2 separate regions of the Homo sapiens genome follow, and region 1 is linked to region 2. The links come from fine-mapping of genetic effects on gene expression. A gene starts in region 2. The other region holds a variant in brackets. All regions are shown on one strand. Distances are from middle to middle.

Region 1 (12,268 bases), 68 kb after region 2:
TACCCTAAATCATCTCTCTCAAGTTTAAAGTTCTGCAAATCTCTAGGGCAGAGGCAAAATGCTGCCAATCTCTGCTAGAACACAACAAGAGTCACCTTTGCTCCAATTCCCAACAAGTTCCCCCTCTCCATCTGAGACCTTATTGTTCATACTACTATCCGCATTTTTGTCAAAGCCATTCAACATGTCTCTAGGAAGTTTCAAACTTTCCCACATTTTCCTGTCTTCTTCTGAGCCCTCCAAACTGTTCCAGCTTCTGCCTGTTACTCAGTTTCAAAGTCACTTCCACATTTTCGGATATCTTTTCAGCAGCGCCCCACTTTACTGGTACCAATTTACTGTATTAGTCTGTTTTCATGCTGCTGATAAAGATACTCCTGAGACTGGGCAATTTACAAAAGAAAGTTTATTGGACTTTAAATTGCACATGGCTGGGGAGGCCTCACAATCATGGCAGAAGGCAAGGAGGAGCAAGTCACATCTTATGTGGATGGCAGCAGGCAAAGAGAGCTTGTGCAGGCAAACTCCTGTTTTTTAAAGCCATCAGATGTTGTGAGACTTATTCACTATCATGAGAACGGCACAGGAAAGACCCACTCCCATGATTCGGTTATCTCTCACTGGGTCCCTCGCACAGCACATGGGAATTATGGGAGTTACAAAATGAAATTTGGGTGGGGACACAGAGCCAAACCATATCAGAAGCATTCTCATCTAAGTTCAGGTTCATATTTAAATTCCAGACTTTATTCCCCAGCCCAGTGGTAGAATCTATGTGCTTGTTCAGTGGCCTGAGTCTCTAGGAGTTCCCCTTGTGCTGTGGCTGGGTCGCCCTGGGGAGAAAGGAGGCTGTAGCATAAGATATAAGCTGTGTGTCCTGGGAATGGTGGCCTTTGATACCACCCCCGCCCACACAGGCCCACTCTGGCAGGCCCCTCTAGGGAGCTGGATTCACAGAGCCAAGCCCTCAGCTACCCTCTGGAGTTCACTCTGCTCAGCCTTGCCGGCACCATTGCCTTGGCATTGTTTCTCCCTGGGTCCTTTATCACTGTGTTCTGGTGAATGCAGCGGCAGCAGGTGTAATGACAAGGGGGCCTTAGCTAACGGGGAAGTCACAGCTGGGACCCTCTCTAGGCCTCAGTTGTCCCACTATGAGAAAACAATATCTGGAATATGGCTTACGGTCCCTGCTGGAGGTCCAGGACAGTGGGATGGTAGAGTTACTAGGAGTCACTCTCTCTGCCACTTTCCATTTGATTGATTTGGGGCCAGTTACTTAACTCCTCTAAGCCTCAGTTTCCTCATCTATAAGTGGGGGTAATGATAATTACTTTCTCATAAGGCTGTTGTGGAAGAAGGTGATCAAATTCAAGCAGTCAATAAATGCAAGTTACAATAGTGATTATATGCAATAATTATTTTATCAGCAATGGTTCCATTTTCTTTCCCAGTCCTGTCCTCTTCACCTTTGTCCTTGGGGGAATGATCTTTCGAGTCATGCCCACCTTTTGTAAGAAATGTGTCTGAGCTAGGCTTTCCTGGTCCTGGTTCGATGGCTTAGGACCCAGGCACTTGTTCCACTCTATGTCCATGCGTGGAACTTTCTAGTGGACCAGTAGCTAAGTCTCACTCGGCAACATCCTCGTGGTATGAACAGAGCAGGGTTGTGACAAGGAGCATGGACTCTCTTGATCTGGTTGCTTTCCTTCCGCTAAGGGTCTGGGAACTTCAGAACAGAGCTGGGGTGAATGAATGCGGGGAGGAACCCTCCTTTCACTCAAACCTTCTACAAACTTAGCAATGTCTGTGGTGTTCAGTGACTTCATGTTCTGTTCTCCGTGAGTCATAACGAAGGGCTCACATGGCCATGGTTTTCTTTCAGAGGATGTGGAGGATGAGTTGATAAGGGAAGAGGTCATCCTGTCGCCAGTCCCATCAGTGCTCAAGTTGCAGACAGCATCAAAACCAATTGACCTCTCAGTAGCAAAGGTAAGTGTAAGGAGACTCCTGGGTTAAATGTGTCTTGATTTGAATGGATATAGATGGCGTGATTTTGGTGTTTCTGCCCCAATCCAGCTCATTGTAATCTCTTGGTCATTGTTGAAATGGAAATTTGGGTGTGATGTAGAAGAAAATGTGAACCGAGAGTCAGGAAAACTGCAGTCTAGTCCTTGCAGCTCTCGTTCCCTCTCCAAGACAAAAGGTGAGGGAGGAGGTTATGTCCTCCCCTCCAAATACCGTGGGAATAGAGCTGCTTCATCATGTCCCTGTGGGCACCGTTAGGGTGTGATGGAAATGGTCCAGTTGTCCCCATTAGAGCAGCGCTGCTCCTGTACTGGTCTCCTAAGCCCTGGCCAGGTTGCAGTGAAGGAAGGACAGGGAGGTGTTAACAATTCTTCAGCACTGTTCAGGTGTACTCCCTTGGCCACTTAAAGGGCCCCGTGGTCACAGGGGACCAGGAGCAGGTTCCTGGCCACAGCAGCCTCTTCTGCAGGGGTGTCTGGGATTGCTCACCATGCTCGGCTACCAGGGTGGCCTCACCACTCCCGTGACCAGAGGCTCCTGCAGGATGGAATGTCATTCCCGCTGTCCTCTTCTGGCCTTTCACCAAGATCCAGGAGGGAAAAATAAAACTCCTAGGGACACAGCTGACTTCCTTCTCTTCCTACTTACTACATATTTACTCAGCATACAAATCAAAGAGCAAAATATTTTTCTAGAGGTTTTGTCCTTTCGTTTCCTTCCCCTCTCCTCCCCTCTCCCCTTCTCTCTCATATCTCCCCCTTCTTCCATTCTCTCTTTTGAAGCTACAGAGGGTCAGATACACTTAAATGGCCCCAAACCTGGGAGGAGGTGCTCTGTCATCTGTCACCATGCAATGAGTCTTTGCAGAGCGCACTTATGCTTGGGGCAGACCCCTCAGGCTCCTAAAGACTATGCAGCAGTAGCGTCTCCAAAAGCAACTGGAAAAAGTGAGGCCTGCAGAGAAAACAGGAGGGCCCAGGGCACGTGGCCTCTGGAAAGCAGAGTCCAGGTTCCCAGGCTCTGTTGACCACACTGTGCCTAGCGGGAGCTGTCATTCTGAGCCCTGACAGATGAATCCACACATCCTTTCTCCTGTGTGCCACCAGCCCACATTTGATGACATGTGGACAAATGCTTCTGTCAAAGAGATTTTTCCTTATATTTAATGAAAAGGAAAAAAAGAGCTGATTCTGGTGGAAAATAATGAGTCTGTAGGAAAGGTCTGACCCAGAGAGGGGGTACAGGGAAGTGGCTGTAGAATCCACCTGCTGGTCTTGGGGCTCACTCAAGGCTTCAGAGACCCCCTCAGATGTAAAACCATGGCAGAGAGAGGGTGGGCCCATCATGAGGGGAGTGGGCGGGGACCTGCTGCCTTTCTCATCTGAGGGCCTGTCCATGGGGAAGGGATTGACCATTCTGGGGGCTCTGGAGGGTGATGCGTGGGTTGATGGGAAATGAACAGTGAACTCATTATCAGCCAGAAGTCTGGAGAAGACAGCCGTGAGAAAGTAGAGGGGCTGCCTTGAGAGGTGGTGGGAACCCCTTCACTGGGGGGTTGGGATGGTTCAAGCAGAGTTCACGGGGGACCACTCATGGGCGGCATCACAGAGGAGGTTCTTACGCATGGTAGAGAGTTGTACTAGACCAGGAGTTGGCAGGTGTTTTCTGTAAAGGGCTCAATAGTGTATTTTTGGCTTTGCTGGCAGTGTGATCTCTGCTGCACCTATTCAACTTTGCCATCATGGTATGAACACAGCCATGGGTGGTATGGAAACAAATGGGCTTTGCTGTGTGCCAGTAGAACATTATTTACAAACAGGTGGTGGGGGCAGATTTGGCCTGTGGGTCACAGTTTAGTAACCCTGCACTAGAGCACTGGCTCTCAAACCCGGCACACTGTGGAATCACCTGGGGGAATCTTAAAACTACTGATACTGGAGTCTCACCCTCAGCAACTGGGGTTTAATTGGCTGGTGTGTTTTCTGAACATCAAGATTGTTTTTAGGAACTTCGTATCCTAGATGGTTCTAATGTGAGGTCGAGTTTGAAAACCCCTAGTCTTGCCTGTGGAAGATCAGAGGACCTCCAAGATCCCTTGCAAATCTAAAATTTTGTTTCTCAAGGCCCCTGTAAGGAGCTTACAAAGATTTTGGCCCATGTCAGCACAGGCTAGCTTGGTTTAAAGATGTTCCAGAGGTAAGACCCTCATTATTGAGTTTCTCTTTCATCAAATATAAGAAGAATGAGCCTGAAAAATAAAAAGAGAAGAGATGAACCATGCTAGAAAATGGGCTTCCCTGCTAGAATTCAAGAACAACTTCTGCAGGAATATGCACACTGAACATCGTATTGTTGCTTGCTTTTAAAACAACCAGTAAAACTCTCTCTTCTTTTTATAGGAAATAAAGACCCTTCTGTTTGGTTCCAGCTTTTGCTGTTTCAATGAAGAATGGAAACTTCAGAGTTTTTCCTTTAGTAACACAGCCTCATTAAAATACGGCATAGTGCAGAACAAGGCAGGTTGCTCCTAGGTTTCCTTGGGACCTTTCTGCTGGGCCATCATGCATAGGGGTGGGTGTACCTCCCAGTTTTGGTTAATCCTGTGAGCATTAGCTGAGCTATTCTGGACCAGCCAGCCCCACATGTGCTGAGTTGTCACTTGGTGCAGGCACTTCAGATGTGGCTGGTGCAGCAAGAGCTGGGGAATAAGACCCTCTGCTTTGGAGATGTTAAAATTGAACATGGATTTAAGGAGCACTTGCTGTGAGTGGTGCAGGTGCTGGGATCCTCAGCAGGAGAGAGAGCAGTAGGAGGCCTTCAGTCTGCTTGGGGCCACTAGAGGGGCCTTCTTAGGCTGATCATTGAGAGATTCACAGGATTTTGCAGATAGAGCTGGAGAAAGGGCACTCCAGGCAGGTGGCAGCATTAATGAAGGGGAGGCGGTTTGAAAGTCTAGGGGCTGCATGAAAAGGCAGAGGGATCAAGTGTGCAGAGCAAGTGCTTGAAGAGAAGGATGTAATAGAAGCTGGGCCAGCGGAGGCCAATGGTTGCAGGCCTAGAACATGGCTTATACCCAGTTCCCACATTATACTCATGGGCAGAAAATAAGCTAAACCCAGGATCAAGAATCAGCAGTTGAGCAGGGCAGCTTGGTCCGGTTCAGTTTCTTAAGCCCCAGGAACCTCCCCTGCCCCACACTGCCTGAGGTCGAGCCCCAGGACCACCAGCTTCTGTCCCTCCCTCTTGTGGCCAAACTCAGCTGGTCTTCATGAGCACCCCAACCTGCCGTTCAGACAATCCTTAAACCTGGATGAGGTCTGTTTGTGTTGTTCAGTCCCACTAGCCTTTGCCAATGTGTCCCAGGAGTCAGATCCTGTGCTAAGCCCCGTGATGCCTACAGAGATGAGCTCCTCAAGAAGCCTCTGCACCACAGGGTGAGAAAGGACAAAGATACACCTAATGTGGTGCTGAAGCAGGCCACAAGTGGGGCAGAAGAGAGCGCAGAGCTCATGTAACCACAGGCTGTTGAAGGGGCTCACTGCCAGCCGAGATGGTCAGGAAAGGCTTCTTGGAGGAGGAGAACTTTAGGATGGGCCTTGAAGGCTGGGTAGACAATTAACACCCTCAACCTGTAGACACAGAAACATTTCCCTAGATGATAGAAAACCTATGGTGATGTCCTTGGCTTCACAGCTGACTGGTTATGAGGAGTCACTTTCCTCCCATGACACACTGACAACTGGCCCCTTCCCCTAGGAGTGGACAAAGGGTCTTGTCACTCCCTCTCTGTGGCCCAAGGTTAGTGTGTTGTAGAAGCAGTTGCCACATCAGAGGCCCTTCTGTTGCAGAAGGCAGGGCCCCTTTACTCTATCAGGTGGGTTCTGGGGTGGGTTTGGGTGAAACCAAAAACTCTGCCCCAGGCCAGTTCTCACTGGCAGCAATGGTCTCATTCTTTGCAGGGTGGTCCTTGCGGAGTCCTGGCAGCTGTCCAAGGCTGTGTCCTACAGAAACTCCTGTTTGAAGGAGATAGCAAAGCCGACTGTGCTCAGTAAGTCAGTGCTCTTTCTGGCAATATCTTATTTTCCCAAGTCTTCCCCAGAGTGTCCAGAAAAAACAAGCAAGGAAGCATGTGTGTTCCCTGATATTTCCTGTCTTCTGCAGGTCAAGAAAGGAGAGGTTAATGGCAGCTAGCTGACAAGGCCTGCGCAGACCAGTGTTAAGGGGACTTGTGCGCGTTTGTTTCTGAAAGCGGGGAGGGTTCTCAGTGGTGCTCCACCTGGGAAGGGGCTGCAGGAACGACATCAAAACCAATTTCCCTCCTCAGACGGCAAGCTGCCCGAATCCCTTCCACCCACCAGGTCGACCTGCCGACCTTTCGACTGCGTCCGGGCCTCCCTTCCCTCCCCACGCTATCTCCCCTCT[G/A]CCAACATTCATAACCACACATTCCAGGCCGCCCCACAGATCATCACTTCCACTCCCTGCAGCCGTTCAGTTTCCATTTCACACATTAAGTGTTTGCACATGAGCACCTTATTCTCATTCATTCAGCACACATTCCTGGAACATCTCTGTGCAGGCACAAATGATACAGGGGAGAATTAGATGAGTTCTGTCCTCTCCAGAAATGCTCCATGAGGTTGAGAGGCAGATAGAAAACCCCAATCCCATACCATCGTTGGTGCCAAGATGAAAGGATTGGCAGGGCACTGGTGGGGCTGGAGGCGAGGCCTTCTTGAGGAAGTGACCTGCCTCTCTTTCCCTCCCTGCAGGCCCGGTTACCAGCTTGTACCGAGTCACCCTCAGAGCTACAGAACTTCTGGCAATTGGCCTTTTTTAAAAAAAAAAAATTTAGTTAAAATATAACATATACACAGTAGTTATACTATGTGTGTTCTGCTCAATGAATTATCACAAAACCGCACACCCATGAACACATTGTCTAGATTAAGAAAAAATATTTCTAGTACTCCAGAAGCATCCTCTGGTACCCAGCAGGTACCCCTATTCTCCTGAAGTTATATTAATAATTAAATGGATTTTAAAACCATAGCTTAATCTTGCCAGTTCCTGAACTTTATTGAAAGGTACTTGTTCTTTGAAATAAGCATTTGAGAATCTTTTTTAAAAAAGCCTAGGTGTTACCCAGACAACAAGACCCATTTCCCATGCATTCCTGGGAACGACACTGTTCACTAGGAGAGCCATCCAGCCAAGCTTGGTACTCCAATGAAACACATTTCACCAGCACGGATGATTTTTCCTTAGTTAGGGTTCAAGTGAAGGTGGCTTTTCATGCTTGGCATCTTAAAATTTTTTCCAATGGTTTTGCACAATAATAATTGAGGTGTTTCCTCTCCAACCAAAAATGCTAATCAGAAGCACAGCAATGTAACACTTCCGTGGCAAGATCTCACCTGTCCTTGTTCTTCTCTCTGCTTCCCCTCCCCTTTGCTCTCCGGTCGATCCTTCGTGGCTCTTGTCTGTACAGGATCATGCCCCACTGCCTGCTCTGGAAGTTCAGCCCCACAAAGGGCTGGGAGGTTTGAATGTCATGGGCAGAGACCCTGCCATCAGCTCTCCCTGGTGGGCTCAACACAGTCCTGTATGCTCAGGAATGCTCCTGACTGGGTGGAACTTTGCTAAGTAAGAACCGCTGGCTGCCCTCAGAGGGTACAGGGATACTGAGCACATATGCACCTACCTACCTACCCACCTTCCTTCCTTGCACTGAAAAAAATGTGCAGAGTGTGCTTAGCAGGTCCTCAGCAGGGATACAGGGCTGAACAAGACACATACAGGTGCCCTCATGGCACCTATGATTGAACAGGAGAGCCAGACAGGAACAGGTGGTTACAGGGGACATGCACGGTGCTAAGGGTTCATCTGGACATGAAGTGGCTCAGGGCGGGCAGCCTGGTGGACTGACATTTTCATCTTACGGAGATAGGAAGGATGGACAGAACCCCTGATTCCCCTTCATATGCATCCTTGCACACTCTTATTCCCCCTCAAATTGTTTTCACCTTCCCAGCAAATATTCTCAAACACCTTCCTGAGCCCTCAGGCTCTGTGCTCAGGCGCTGTGCCTGCTGGCTCCTCTCATTGCACAGAGGCCACATCTTTGTGGAGGCCTCCTGGGACCTCCCCCATTAAGATAAAACCAGGCCCTGCCTCTAATAACTCCACTGCCAGCTGGTGCTCTTGCTCATCGATATGGTTACCTGTCCACATCTGCCGCCACCTACTACTGCCCACCCCACTCCAGAACACAAGCCCCGTGAGAACAGGGACCTTCCTGAGCTGGTTCACAGCCAGGGCCCTGGCATCCAGCCCTGTGTCTGGTCCACAGAAGAGGCCCTCAGAATTTTTGTTGAGAGAACACATGGACAAATGAATGAGTTATCCAAACAGGGAGGGGAGGCAGAATGGTATTCCAGTAAAGAGAACAAGATGTGCAAAGCCTGTGGGCAGTGAGAGGAGTGGAGGAGTCACTGGGGGTGGTTAGGGCAGCATTTGGAGGAGGAGGGTGGGAGCTGGGGTAGTGGCAGGTCAGCGCCAGGCTGCCAGAGGGGCCTTGGGTGCTGCCAGCTGCTTGGATCAAGCCTTGGCCCTTGCAGGAGATTGTCTCTAAACTCATTTCAGCCTAGTGCTCCTTCAGAGTTGCTTTTGAACTTCACCGTGGGCTTCTGGGGGAACTTGTGGATGGTTTCCCAACAGTCAGGACAAGGCATTTAAGCATGTTCCAGGAAGAGCCGACTCTGCTCAGGGCACAAGGCAGACTTGGTTTTTGTTACCCCACCCCCAGGCCACATCCATGGGGTGGAAGCCCACTGCTGTCCACACCAGGGAGGGAAGCCAGGCCTTAGAAGGCAAAAGCCATCCAGGTTGGGATCCCAAGGGGGTGTCTGGGTAGAAAGAAAACTGCTAAGCTGGAGGAGTGAGGTTTTCTATCTGTCGTTGCCGGCCAGGCAGGTACCTCCTAGCTGCAGGCCAAGGATGGTGCAGCCCAGTGGGTCCTGGGGCTGTGGGGGTGGGCAGAGGAGGAGGGAAGAAGGAGCTGCTGGCCTGTTGGGGGTCATCATGTGTGGAGGTGTGCCAGGTGCCAAGGAGCCAGACCTTATGGGGGGGCCTGCCTGGCTGGACCAGAGGAGGTCTGTGCCATGCAGCTGGGAGAGCACGGCCTGCTGGCCAGGGCCACCTTCTCCAGCGAGCCTGGAAGGATTCATGGTGTAGGAGAGTGACCTCGCTTTTGTTTGGAGCCCTGCAACTCTGGGTGCTGCTTGTAGCCCACCCCCTGGACTGGGTGCTGCTTGTAGCCCACCCCTACCGGCTGCTGCCCCATCACAGAGGTGCTGTGCTGTGCAGGTTGAGTGAAGCGGTCTGACTTCCTGCTCCCACAGACCTCCTAGCAGGCCTCAGGGGACATTCTTCAGACTCCCCTGAGAGGGAGGAGTGGAGAGCCTGGCTTAGTTATGGAGCTCGCTGAAAAAGCCTCAGGGGACTCAGGCAGAGCTGTCACAGGGAGACAAGCTGGGGAGGCCCAGAGACCGTCTCCCCTGACCCCAGCAAGGACTCGCCTCCTCCTGGTGATGGGCCCTGGGCAGCAGGCACCAGATGCCCTCCCCAGCCCTCCCACCCCAGTCTCCTCCCACTCTCCTGCACTGGTCCTGCCTCAGGTCGCAGGTAGATAGGGGTTGGGGAGGAAGAACCCTCCTGAGGACAGGTTAGGGCTTCTGTCAAGTGAAGACCCGGAAGACCAGGGAGTGAGGGCCTGCTGTCGGGGGCCTGGAGAAGAGAAGGGAGGTGGAGTCCATGTCACTGCTTTGCCAAGGCCCTGAAGGTCAGAGGCTACAGAAGGTTGTCCTTGCCAAGTGGGTGGGTGTCTAGCCTGTAGATGTTGGTGCCCAGGCTGGGAGGGGGAATGCCTGGCTTTGTGCCCCTCAGCCACCCTGGGAGAGGGGAAGGGTGCTGAAGAGGGTACCAGACCGGGTCAGGACCTGGATTATGGTTGTGTGGAAACAGAGCATCACTTTCTCCGTTTGTGAACTAGGAATAGTCATCTCTGGCTTGCCTAAATTGGACTCAGTAAGAAAATGCAAAGTCCTTTGTAAATCTTCAAGGGCTCTATAAGTGAGTAGGGCCATTGAACTCAGCCTGCCATGGTACAGATGGGGAAACTGAGGCCCAGAGAGGGAAAGATGGTTGTTCAGGGTCACATCTGGCATCCCTGGCAGAACCAAGACTGGCACCTGGTGCCCCTGTGTCACATTGTGCTGCTGTGCCCTGCAAGAGGCATGGAGCAGTGGGGGCCCAGGGAGGCCAGGAGGAAGGCTGAGGGCTCTGAGTTTTAGACTTCCATCGCTGGACACCCACACAGACTCCTAGGGACCAAGGGGTGGCTCTGTTCATGAACGGCTTCACGGTGGAACCTCCCCTTTGGCTTTAAGTTAGAAAAGATGAACACAGAAGAGTACAGAGAGCAACATAGCAAACACCTACAGAGCCCCTGCCCCACACGAGCAAAGGGAAACACTGGGTCACGTGGGCAGGAACCTCTCTCAGTCCTCAGCTCCTCGGTTTCATTGACTTATATAGTTTTCACATTGATTGATTGTGTTATTGATGTTCCTTCAAAAGCCATGTGTGAATGGTTGGGTGTGAGGCCTCAGCACTCCCTTTTGACTCTGAAATTCTAGGATTTCAGACATGATCCAGCTTAAAAAAAAAAAAAAAAAAGGGCAAGCTCTTCTGTTTTCTTCAGGAACACCACGATGACCTGCCATCAGCTGCCATCTGCTCTGCGGCTCTGGGGAGCTCAGGCCCTGTGGACCCAGAGGCAGCCCCTGCACTTTCCTGCCTGTGTGCGGGGTCTGCCTTGGCCCTGGAGGCCCCCACCTCAGATGTTGCCCACCACATCTGGTGGGGAAATGGTTCTGTGAAAGCAGATGGAGGATGGGATCGCACCCTCCAGGGAAGTCACGCTGAAATAAAGGCATCTTGGCAGTGGTGGTGTTTTTTCTGCAGGACTGTCTGGCTTCATTACGACTCATTCCATCAGGCCGGCAGCCGGCCTCTCCTCAGTCGGGAAGGATGGAGCTGGGCAGCAGTACTTGGTGTTTTTCCACTTGAGAAGAGGCTGTGCCGGCTTGGCTCACAGAAAGAGATGAAGAGCTCTTGATCCCCCTGAAGGCCTGGAGAGAGCCACAGGCCAGGAACGGCCCTCAGAGGCGGGTGCGGATCTGAGAGTCGGGGAATCCAGGAAGTCCTCCTCTCACTTCCACTTCCCCTCTGAAGTTGGGGAATTCGAGGCCCAGATAAGGAGAGGTGCTTGCCCAAGGCCTCTGTGGACATTGGTAGCAGAACCTATGGTCCTGCAGCCCCAGGCCAGCCTTTCTACCCCCTATTGCAGCTTTTGACCCTGAGAGGGAGCAGACAGGGAGCTCCCCCAAATTATAGACTCTGTACATGGCTCCATGGGCACGTCACAGTGGACAGGTGAGGCTATTTTGAGAAAGTTAGGGTAGAAACATCTCTTTCATCTGAAACACTTGGGTAATTTAGGTAAAAGCAGGATGTATTATTCCCTCAAGATCATTTATTTTCCCTATCTCTAGATAAATGTCTTTTTCCTGCACTTCACCTGTGAGGAATTCGACTCTTAAAGAAACTTCTCTTGGTTTAAGAGCCTGGCCAGGTGCCAGCCTCCTGGGAGGAGTCTGACTGATCAGGAAATGCAGACCTGTTTGTCACCTGGGTTCTGCCAGTGAAGGCGTGCGCTGAGCTATCTGGTAAAGGCCTGGGTGATTCAGACGCAGGACCTTTCCCTGTCATCATCTGTGGGTGCAGGTTCTCACGCAGGCACATACAGCCCTGGCTAATCTGGGGTGGGTTAAATCCACGGTCCCCAGCCTTTTTGGCACCAGGGACTGGTTTTGTGGAAGACAATTTTTCCATGGACTGGAGGTGGGGGTGGGATGGTTTCGGTATGATTCAAGTGCATTACATTTATCATTAGATTCTCATAAGGAGCGCGCAACCTAGATCCCTCGCATGCACAATTCACAATAGGGTTCCTGCCCCCACGAGAGTCTTATGCCACTGCTGATCTGACAGCAGGCAGAACGCAGCTTCACTGGCTCGTCCGCTGCTCACCTCCTGCTGTGCGGCCTGGTTCCTAACAGGCCACAGACCAGTGCCAGTCTGTGGCCTGGGGGTTGGGAACTCCTGGGTTAAAGACAGAATG
Region 2 (10,943 bases):
AATGAGGATTCCTTGTGGAGGATTGGTGGGAAAGAATGGGACACATGATGTGATCTAGTCTTTCCCAGATGTCTGGTAGCACACCCTCTGCCCTTCCATGATGACCAGATTGCCCCTTTCACTTGCCACCTTAAGGCTGTGTTAAGGTTCTTTTATTCCCAGGAGCCAGCTATGTGCCTGGAAAAAGAATGCATTCCTGCACTTCTCTTGCTTAACCTTTCATTCCAATGTGAAAAAAGAGTTTCAGGGCCAGGAAAGTGACAGACACACACACACACACACACATACACACACACACACACACACACACACACACACACACACACACACGCACTTAACCATGTCTAGCCTAAGTTTTACCTGGACCACTGATTGGTGCAGTTGTCCCCCAGCTAGTCTCCCTGCTTCCATACAGTAAGTCCTAATTTAGCATCATCCATAGGTTTTTGGAAATTGCAGCTTTCAGCGAAATGACATATAACAAAACCAGTGTTACCATAGGCTAATTGCTATAAACAAGAGTTGAGTTCCTGGCATATTTCTGGTCCCAAAAAGATCACCAATCTTTACCTGCTTATTCCAGTTCAGGATCATGAGTGATCAGGGCAAAAGGCCTGCCCTGGACAGGACAACATTCCATCACAGGAAGCACTCACACCCACACCCACATCCACAATCACTCACACTGGGACCATGTAGACACACACATTCACCCAGCGTGCACATCTTTGGGATGATGGAGGAAACCCGTGCAGACATGGGGAGGACACGCAAACTCCACACAGACAGTAGCCCCAGCTGGGAACTGATTTTTTTTTCTTTTCAACGTCATAATGAAACAATGTTGAAGGAAGCAATGTTTTTTGAGGATCCATTGTACTTGCCCTTAATCTACAATCGATTCTCAAAACAAAAGCCAAAGAGATCCTGTCAAAACCTAAGTCAGATCCTGTCTCTCCTCTGCCCAAAACTCTCCAAAGGATTCCCCATTCAGAGGAAAAGCCAAGCCCTTCTGATGGCCCTATACCACCAGGTCCCTGTTTCTGTCTCCTCTCTGCTCCCTCTGGCCTCAAAATTTCACAAGCACTCAGGTTGGTCGCCCTTGCAGGGCCTCTGCATTTGCGTTTCTTCTGCCTGCAGTGCTCTCCCTCCAAGTCTCTGCATAGCTCACATCCTCTCTTCCTTGCTGAAGTTCTACCATCGAAGTGATCTTATCCAGTCAACTTTTAAAAATTATAATTTCTGCTTGCCTTAAAAAGTCCTCCTATACTCCCTCCATGCTTTTTTCCCTCTTCAAGTCTATGATTTTTGGGGGTCAGCTGCAGTGACTCACTCCTGCAATCTCAGCACTTTGGGAAGCTGCATATCTTCAAGCTATCCTCCAGACAGGAGGATAGCTTGAGGCCAGGAGTTTAAGACCAGCCTGGGCAACATAGTGAGACCCTATCTCTATAAATAAATAAACAAATAAACTAGGTAGGGTGGTGCATGCCAGTAGTCCTAGCTCCTTGGGAGGTTAGGCAGGAGGATCATTTGAGCTCAAAAATTTGAGCTTACAGTGAGCTATGATTGTGCCACTGAACCCCGTTTAGGTGACAGAATGAGATGCTGCCTCTAAAATACATACACACATATATCTATGATACCCTTTAAATCATCTGCAGTGCTCTGTGTTTTGTATGCATTTATAAATTTTTTTTTCTGTCCATCTCCCCATTTGCATCTTTCCCCATTCTCTCTTCAAGAAGGCATATATTTTACAGTGTTAAATCTGCAGCACCCATACACCTGGCACGTGGTAAGGGCTCAACAAATATTTTTAAAGGAGTAAATGAATGGAGGAATGAATGATTTTTTCTCTTTTCACCTTCGTCTGCCTCCACGGGGGAAATCTCTCTTCTGACCTACTATATAACACCTACTATCTGTGATACACAACAGCAGTCCTCAACATTTTTGGCACCAGGGACCAGTTTCGTGGAAGACAGTTTTTGCATGGGAGGTGGGGGATGGTTTTGGGATGAAACCGTTCCACCTCAGATCATCAGGCATTAGAGTCTCATAAGGAGTGCGCAACCTAGGTCCCTCGCATGTGCAGTTCACAATAGGGTTTGTGATTCTATGAGAAGCTAATGCTGTGGCTGATTGGACAGGAGGTGGAGCTCAGGTGGTAATGTTCCTTTGCAGCTACTCACCTCCTGCTGTGTGACCTGGTTCCTAATAGGCCACAGACCCATACCGGTCCACAGCCCAGGGGGTTGGGGACCCCTGATACACAATCTCTTATGGAGCATAAATCTGTCTCATGTTATTCTTTCATTATTACACATCATCCATCAGTGTGTCTTCACAGCTGGAACATGAGGGCCCCTGGACCAAGCATCATACTGTCTCCTGCAACTCTGCCCTTCTCTCTCTACATATAAGAGCACATGGCTCTTTCTCACATAGCACAACATGTTCAAAAGAGGCTTCTCAAAGAACCATTGCACGTTGAGAGGGGAAATTGCCTGGAGATTATGGTGCAATCTGCCACATTAAAGCTACGTCCTATGGAGACTGTATAGGGTGAGATAGTTGCTTCCCAAGTGTGGTACATGTGCCAGTGGTGGTTGTAAGGTGATTTAGGTGAATGCATACCTTTCTGGTTTTGTGTTTGTTTTAATGTGTATTAGAGATTTAATAAGCACATAAAACCCAAGATCTTGTGGCTATTACTGCTTGGGAACACTTTCCTTTTAAAATAAATTGTAAAACATGTATGTGGATTTAAAGAAAATAATACATAAGTAACTGTATAGGGGTTAAGGGCTGAATTGTGTCTTTCAAAACTCCTGTGTTGGGCCGGGTGCGGTGGCTCACGCCTGTAATCCCAGCACTTTGGGAGGCCGAGGTGGGCGGACTGCCTGAGGTCAGGAGTTCAAGACCAGTCTGGCAACATGGTGAAACCCCGTCTCTACTAAAAGTACAAATATTAGCTGGGCACGGTGGTGGGCGCCTGAAATCCCAGCTACTCAGGAGGCTGAGGGAGGAGAATGGTTTGAATCCGGGAGGTGGTTGTTCACTTGGCAGTGAGCCGAGATTGCGCCACTGCATTCCAGCCCGGGCACCTGAGCGGGACTCTGTCTCAAAAAAAAAAAAAAAAAAAGAAAAAAAAATTCCCGTGTTGAAGTCCTAATGCCTGGTATTCCAGAATGTGACTGTGTTGGATAGGGTCTTTAAAGAGGTGATGAAGTGGAAATGCAGTCATTAGGGTGGACCCTATTCCAATACAACTGATGTCTTTATAAGAAGAGATTAGGACACAGGCACACACGGACGGCTAGCCACGTGAAGACACTGGGAGAAGGTGGCCATCTATAATAGAGGCCAGGGAGAGAGGCCTCAGGAGAAACCATCCAGCTGACACCTCGATCTTGGTCTGTAGCCCTCAGAACTGGGAGACAATAAATGTGTTGTTTAAGCCACATGGTCTGTGGTACTTTGTATGGCAGCCCAAGCAAAGGAATACAATAGGTAACATGCGGAAGTGGCAAAGATTGTGAAGGTGGAACCCAGGTGACTAAGTTCGGGGAAAATGTACTGGGCTTGGTTAGAAACCCAACTTTCCCAGTACCCAGCTGTGTGGGCCTCAGCAAAATCTTAGCCTTTCTGAATCTCAGTGTCCCGTTTTAAAGAATGGGGCCAACAGTAACTACCTAGCCAGGAAGTTGTAAGGATTAAAAGTGCAACCGTGAGTTAAGAGCTTGGTGATCAATAAATGGCAGTCTCATTACGGGAAAGCAGGCACCAAGGGGGCGAGGAACATCTCCTTTAATTTCGGTGCCCAAGAAGCAGAATGCTGGGCTTCCTTGCCCCCACCGTCAAGGCCCGCCAAGGTCAGTAGCGTTGGTGGCCCCAGAGGGGGCCGTGGTGCTGAGGGTGGACCTGAGGGGGTCACTTCCCTGTGAGTTTAGTCCTCCAGAAACAAGGAGGCAGGTATTCTTCCCATTTTATGTCTAGGAAAATGGAGCCTCGGAGCGGAGCGGTAATTTGTCCTAGGCCTCTCAGATGACCAGGGCCAGGGTCAGAGTGAGGCCCCGAGTCCGGAGCCGTGGACGGGGCCCTAGGCGACACCAGGGCGCCCTGACTGCGGCCTCCCACTCCGAGACGCGAGTTTGCGGGACGCTCCACCCCTTCCCTCCCGCCCCAGCCCGCCAGCCCCAGGGAAGGGGAGGAGTTCTTGCCGCGCCGACGCCGCCGTCGCCACGGCAACGCGGCCATACTGCGCCGGACAGACCCAGTTGCCTGGTGCTGCGGCCCGGCGTGGGCCTCGTGGGCAGAGCCAGAGCCAGAGCCATGGACAGCCTCTTCGTGGAGGAGGTGGCCGCCTCCTTGGTCAGGGAGTTCCTCAGCAGAAAGGTAACGGCTCGCCCCCTCCAAAGCCCAGGAAGTGGCTCTAATTTGGGGGGATCATCGGGGTCTCCCCTGAAGGCTTTGCAGCTTCTGGGAGGGCGCCCGTTCCCTACCTACTGCCTGCTCCAGAGATGCCCCAGAAGAGCGCCGCTTTCCCGGGACAGGGGAAACTACATTTCCCACGAGGCGTTTCTGCCGTCGTCACCGGGCGCTTCCGCAAGGCACGGTTTGGACCCCGTCCGCTGCCCTCCTGGGGCATCCGCGCTCCGGGGCGGCGGCAGCTGGGGAGGGGGCCTGGGGGCCGCGCCAAGCAATCCTAGCGCGGGCGCACAGCGGGCAGGCCTGCGCCCTAGCCTGGCTGCCGGCCTCCGTGCGCTACCCACGCAAGTCAGGGTCCCACTCGGAAAGAACTTCTCCCAGAGGGAACCCCAAAAGCCCAGAAAAGTTCTTGACGGTCAAACCCTTAGTCATTTTAGTCAACAGTGGGAATTCCAGTGGTTGCTTTAATTTTTGTAAGTTTTCCTATTGTCTTGTCCCAGGAGAGTTTTTGCAGTGTTCACAAGCTTGGAAGGTCCTTAGCTGTCATCTGGCCTCAGGGTGGAGATGGGGACCTCGGTGGGGAAGGAGCTCGCCGGGGGGTCTTGGGCGTGGTAGTGGAGGGGGACATACATTAGCTCATTCAGCACATGGTGACTGAGGGCTGCACTCTGTGTGTTTTGTCTGTCCTTGCAGTGTCATACTGGGCTAGGGCGATGGGTACTTGTCTTGTATGAAAACACATACACGTAATTTTTTGAATGGAGGAAAGGGGAAGGACTTTGAAGTCAGACGGAGACAATTCAAATATTTGCTACTAGTTTGCAGTGTGAACCTCAGTACTTTACTCACTGTCTCAATTTCGTTATCTGTAAAACAGGAAAGTAAGACCTACTCTTTGCAGATTTATAATGAGGATTAATATTAACATATGGGCAGCTTCCAAGCATTGGATCTGACATATAGATACAATGTGCACGTAGGTGTTCAACTTTATACCTCCTCCCACCCTCACTGTTTCTGACACCAAACAGGTGTCTCTGAAGTGCACCTGTTTGGAAAGTGTCTTTGTGTGTTTTTTATGATTTATTTTTATTTGAAAAAATTTTAAATGCGTTTGGCTTTGTCGCATCTGCCCTGTCTTTATGGCTAATTGACCTGCCATCACCTGTCCTGGCTGCATGTTGGATATCAATTGACACACCCTGGAAAGCTGACTGTTAACATCATTTCTTTTAAGTCTGGGTCACTGAAAAAAACTCTTAGAGAGGGCTTCCTCGTGTTCTTTCTTGAGTACAAATGAAATCCAGTGTCCTCACTGACATCCAAGCCTGCCCTGTAGCTTGACCCCAGCTTACCATCTCAATTTCATTTCTAGCCTCTCCCACATCCCTCCCCACCACCCCCCACTTGACATGGCCGAGTTCCCCTGGTCTCCTCTCCCTCGCATGTTTTATCTGGGCACACTAAGGCCCTAAGAGTAGAAAGGAGTTGCCCACAGTTACTCAGAAGGTCACAGTGAGCTGGGACTGCAGCCCAGGTATACTGCTTTCTCATCGCCTTCTGCTCTAGGGCAGAGACCACGTGCTCCCCACAGGGTTTTGCACAGGCAGTCATTGCACCCAGCAGTCGTAACCAAGAGAGCTGCCACCTTGGTGCCAGGTACCTAGAAGGTGCTGGTTTGTTGTCTCAGATCCTCGTAACAGTCCTGAAAGATAGGTATAAGTATTCCCTTTCACATAAGATTATTGTGAGACCAGGAGGCCAAGAAACTTGCCCAGGGTGAGCAGGTCAGACCATGTAATTCCCCTGCTCAAACCCCTCTACTGGCTTCCCATCATAATTAGACTTCAAGTCTCTCCATTACTTGGCTCTGGCTACCCTCAGACCTCATCTTCCATGACTGCTTGCTCCGCCCTCTACCCTTCAACCACTTTGGCCTACTTGAACTCACCAAGTGTGGTCTTCCCTCGGGGGAGTCATGATAGTCTCCTGGAGATGGCAGGGTCTGCTGAGGTGACTCTTCTGCTGCCCCAGCTTCTTGAGTCTGTGGCTCCACTCCTGCAGTGACTGTGCCATCCTCCCTCTGCCACCCTGCCCCATGGTCATGAGCTGGGCTTGTTGTTACCAGTACTGCGCCCTTTCTGTAATCTCAATTCCAAGCTTCCCACCTGTCAAAATTTCTAGCTTGTTTCCCATCATAGCCCCACGTAAACTCTTCTCCAGCCTCACCACATCTATATTGCATTGTTCCTGCCAACTTTTCACAGTCCCTCGGGCCTACCATAACCCACCTACCTCTCACCCACCCATCCTTATAATTGCACCCTCCATAACAGGTGCAGCTCTTTTGCGCTTCTCTCCTTTCATCATTCTCTTCTGACAGTAAAATTCCACTCGTCCTGCTCTACACTTGCGCCCATAGAGCTGAATGAGATTGGAGAGAAACACACACCACTATGTTGATGGTATCACTCTAAATCCATGGCCACTCACCCTTGTGGTGCCTTATGGGTGCCTGCCCACCTGGTTGCAACTCTCCAGACTGTTTACCCTCTGAGACCCTGGATGACCATTTCATACCTTCTCTCTCTTCAAACCCTGAAGCTCCTTCCCCATCTAATTTCACTGAGAAAACAGAAGTCTTGAGAGAAGTCCAGCAGGCTCCCACTACCACACTTACTCACCTTCCTGGGCTGCACCATTCACTCTGCTCTCTTTAGTGTTCTTGTGGATGAATTCTCCATACCCCTGGTTAGGCCCACCCCTCCATGTGTGCATGCCCTCTCTTGTGTGCTCAGGGATGTCGCTGTCTCCTGCACCATGCATTTCCCTCCTCTACTAGGTTACTCCTATCAGCACATGTTGTGCTCCTGCAGAATCCCATCTTGACCCCCAAACCCTAGCTACTGGTTTATTATTTCCTCCCTTTCTATAGAAACCCCATAAAGGACCTGTGTCTACTTTCATTTTAATTCTTTTCTCTGCTTTCTCGAACCCATTTTAATCAGACTTTTGTCCCCATCATTCCATGGAAATAGCTCTTCTTAGGGCCATTATTAACCTGGAATTTTTAGTCCTCGCCCTTCTTGATCTAATGATTATGTTTGTCACAGTTGATTGTGTCCTTCTGCTTGTCTTCTAGGAGACTGTCCCTCTTAGCTTTCCTCCTACTCCTCTGGGTGCTCCCTTCAGGGTCTTCGCTGGTCCCCCTAGTTTCTCTGTCCTGTGCACTCTGGTGGGCTCAAGGACTTAGTTTATGGCTCTCTTCTCTTCTTCTTTCCGTTCACTCTCAAGACATCTCAGCCAGTCTTGTGGATTCCCATACCATCTATATGCTGACAATTCCCAAATGTCTATCTCTAGCTGAGACCTCTCCTTGAACTCTTGAATTCTTACAACTGCCTATTCTACATATCTACTGGGATGTCTAACAAGCATCTCAACATGTCTCTGATAGTGTTTCTGCTCACACTTCAGACACCAAATGTATGGGGATTTTTCCTCCATACAAACTAAATCTCCAACTCTCCAGACACCAATTGGGTGTCGTACAATTCAAATCAGTCCTGACACTACCAAGAGTTAGTGCAGACCCTGCAGGTTAAGTCACGCTCATGACTGCCCCCACTTCAGATGCTAGTCAGAAGTCCCAAGTTGCCACCTGAACTTCTGACCAACTAGCTATAAATTGAGGGTTCCCACAACCCCCTCCACAGTTTTAATAATGTGCTAGAATGGCTCACAGAACTCGGAGAAACACTTTACTTACATTTACCAGTTTACTATAAAGGACACAATTCAGGAACAGCCAGATGGAAGAGATGCATAGGGCAAGGTGTGGGTGGAGGGTCATGGAACTTCTGTGCCGTCTTCAGCATGCTGCCCTCCCAGCACCAACCTGGGAACTGCCTGAACCCCATCATTCAGGAGATTTTGTGTCAATTCTGCTATATAGGAATGTTTGATTAAATCATTGACCATTGGTGGTTAGCTCAATCTATAGCTTCTCTTCCCTCTCTGGGAGATTGGGAGGTAGGGCTGAAAGTTCCAGCCCTCTAATCAAGGTTTGCTCTTTCTGGTGACCAGCCCCCATCCTGAAGCTATCTAGGGGTCCCCATCCACTAGTCATCACATTAGCATACAGAAGACATTCTTATCACCTTGGAGATTCCAAGGATTTTAGAATCTATGTGCCAGGAACCTGGGACACAGAACAAATATATATTTATCATAATGTCCAAAACTCAATTTCTGATTTCCTGTTCCTCCTACAACTGTGCCCATTGGAATAAATGGCATCTCTGTCCTTCTAGTTGCCTGGGCCCAAAACTTTGGAATTATTCTTGGCTTGTTCCTTTCTTGTGCACCTCATATCCAGTCCATCAGCAAATCTGTTGGCTTTATCATCAGAGCACATACAGAATGTAGCCACTTCTTACCACTTCTGTTGCAAACACCTTGCTCCAAGCCACCCCTTTGTTTCATGTGATTTGTGAATTGTTCAATAGCCTCCTAAATGGTTTCTCCTTAATCTCCTGCCTCCTACAGTTTATTTTCAACCTAGCAGCCAAGTGATCTTTCAAAAATATGTCAGTTCAAAATAGTAGCCTTCCCATTTCATAAAAGCCCACAAGACCTTTCCTTATGAGTCTCTGGGTGACTTCTGACTTCCTTACCTCCTTTCCCCTGCCATGCAGCTCTAGATGCACTGGCCTTTTGCAACTGGCTCAGGGCCTTTGCACTTGCTGTTCCTTGCCTGGAACACTTTTCTCCCAAGTGTCTGTGTGGCCTGCTCTTTTGATTCCCTCATCAATCAATGATGCCTTTCCTGACCACCTTTGATAAAGTAGCAGCGCATCCCCACACCCACCCTAGCCCTCTCTGTCTCCTTATCCTACTTTGTATGTTTTTTCCCCATATCATACTATACTTGTTGTCTCTCCCCCTATAGAGTGCAAGCTCCCTGAGGACTGGGACTTTCATCTGTTCACTGCTCTGCCTCTAGCAACTGGACTTACGGACTAGTGGTCTGTTCCCTTCGTTTCACAGATAGGGAAACTGGGACAGGAGTGAGCATGTGGATGATGCTGAACAAATAGCTGGCCATCTAAAACAGTGGCCTTCATCCTTGTCTTCCCTCTCCCTGCTTTGTCTCCCTCGTAGTGCATATTAGCAGCTGCCACACTATACATTTATGGTCTGCTTTCCCAACAGAACATCAGCTCTTATTCCTTCTGTCTCTCCTGCATCTAGAACAGAGCCTGGCACATAGGAGGTGCATGACAGGTGTTTGTTGGGCGAATGAAGTTTGAATGGGCTGGATGGGACTGAGGACTGGCTGACTCCCAAGGGCACCCTTGTCCTCTACCCCAATGGTATTTCTTTTCTTTTCTTTCCTTTTCTTCTTTCTTTCTTTTTCTTTTTCTTTTTTTTTTTTAGAGATAGGGTCTCACTCTTTCATCCAGGATGGAGTGCAGTGGTGTAATCATAGCTCACTGTGGCCTTGAAGTCATGAGCTCAAAGATTCCTCCTGCCTCGGCCTCTCAAAGTTCAGGGACTGCAGGCCTATGGCACCATGCCCAGGCCCCCGGTGGTTTTCAAATGCTGGTGTGCATCACGCTCTAGAGCCAGGGTAGGGGTGGGGTTTGTTAAATGTACAGGGCTTGCTGATTTGAACTGTTGACAGACATAAAGAATTATCCATCAGAGAGAGCCTCGTTATAGCATGTTCCACATCACTTTGACTGGAGGGAAAGCCATGGTTAAGCCCAGATGAAATGCGGGTGGTTGGTTTTGAACCCCACCTCTCCTTCAAATGGACTCTTCCCGATGCACCTAATCCACCTTTTTTCTGACCCATATATCCATTTCTTTCCATTTCCCTTCCCTACGGCCTCCTCTTTCCTCTGTTTGTTTCAAGATTGTGTTCTTTTAGTTTCCCAAATTGACCTTCTTAGCTAAATTCATGGTGGGCATGGGTTTTGTCATGTTTCCCCAGCAGCTAGAGCCTCTGTAAAATTCTGAACACAAAGGCTCTGGGAGAGGCTGAAGCCTGTGTAGCACTGGGGGTCTGGAATCCATTAAGAACAAGGAACACCCCTAACACCAGGCTGAGCTGTTGGTGAGGCATGTTCTCAGCCTCCAGCCATTTGACAATCACCATGGCCCAGTGAGGTGGGCAGAGAGCAACTGCTGTGGTTGTTTTTCAAATAGAGAAGCCAGGCACTTGCGAACAGGACCCTCACTTCGCCAACCCCAGATTTTCCATTGCTAGAGCATGTCTCAGCTGGGCCTTGAACCTTGGTCTTCTGGCAGTTCAGGGTGGGATGATGGAAAGTGGCTTTGCTCATGACTTAGCATTTACCAAGAGCTTCTCATGGGCCTGGGTCCCAGAGTCATGGACTCACAGTTTGGGATGGTTACAGCCCCCACCTGTGATGTGATTCCATTGTGTTACATTGGGCAAGTCAACCCCATCTCCTGGTTTCCCCATCTGAGAGTGAAGGGAA

Which allele goes with the higher level. Positions count from the first base shown, and alleles are read on the strand shown. Sizes are in standard deviations (SD) of each study's normalised expression.
As copies of G replace A in region 1, the expression in coronary artery of the gene that starts at base 4,262 in region 2 goes down (large effect, 0.82 SD a copy in GTEx).

What was found. PIP is the estimated chance that this variant, and not a neighbour inherited with it, causes the effect.
Region 1: its variant is fine-mapped to the expression of MINDY4 in coronary artery (GTEx, PIP 0.97).

The regions. Positions count from the first base shown.
Region 1 is chr7:30,834,776-30,847,043 of GRCh38, forward strand. MINDY4 (MINDY lysine 48 deubiquitinase 4) reads left to right here. Exons shown (of 18, transcript NM_032222.3): 7 at 1,883-1,989; 8 at 4,425-4,541; 9 at 5,985-6,073. It overlaps INMT-MINDY4 (INMT-MINDY4 readthrough (NMD candidate)), which reads left to right. Exons shown (of 20, transcript NR_037598.1): 9 at 1,883-1,989; 10 at 4,425-4,541; 11 at 5,985-6,073. Among named protein-coding and RNA genes, the nearest start is that of MINDY4, 69 kb to the left of the region's middle. The variant G/A (reference allele first, on the strand shown) is at 6,448.
Region 2 is chr7:30,767,156-30,778,098 of GRCh38, forward strand. It overlaps MINDY4 (MINDY lysine 48 deubiquitinase 4), which reads left to right and starts at 4,262. Exons shown (of 18, transcript NM_032222.3): 1 at 4,262-4,401. The coding sequence starts at 4,339. All of the region lies in intron 3 of INMT-MINDY4 (INMT-MINDY4 readthrough (NMD candidate)), which reads left to right. RefSeq lists silencers at 4,143-4,192, 4,253-4,302, 4,673-4,822 and an enhancer at 4,378-4,672.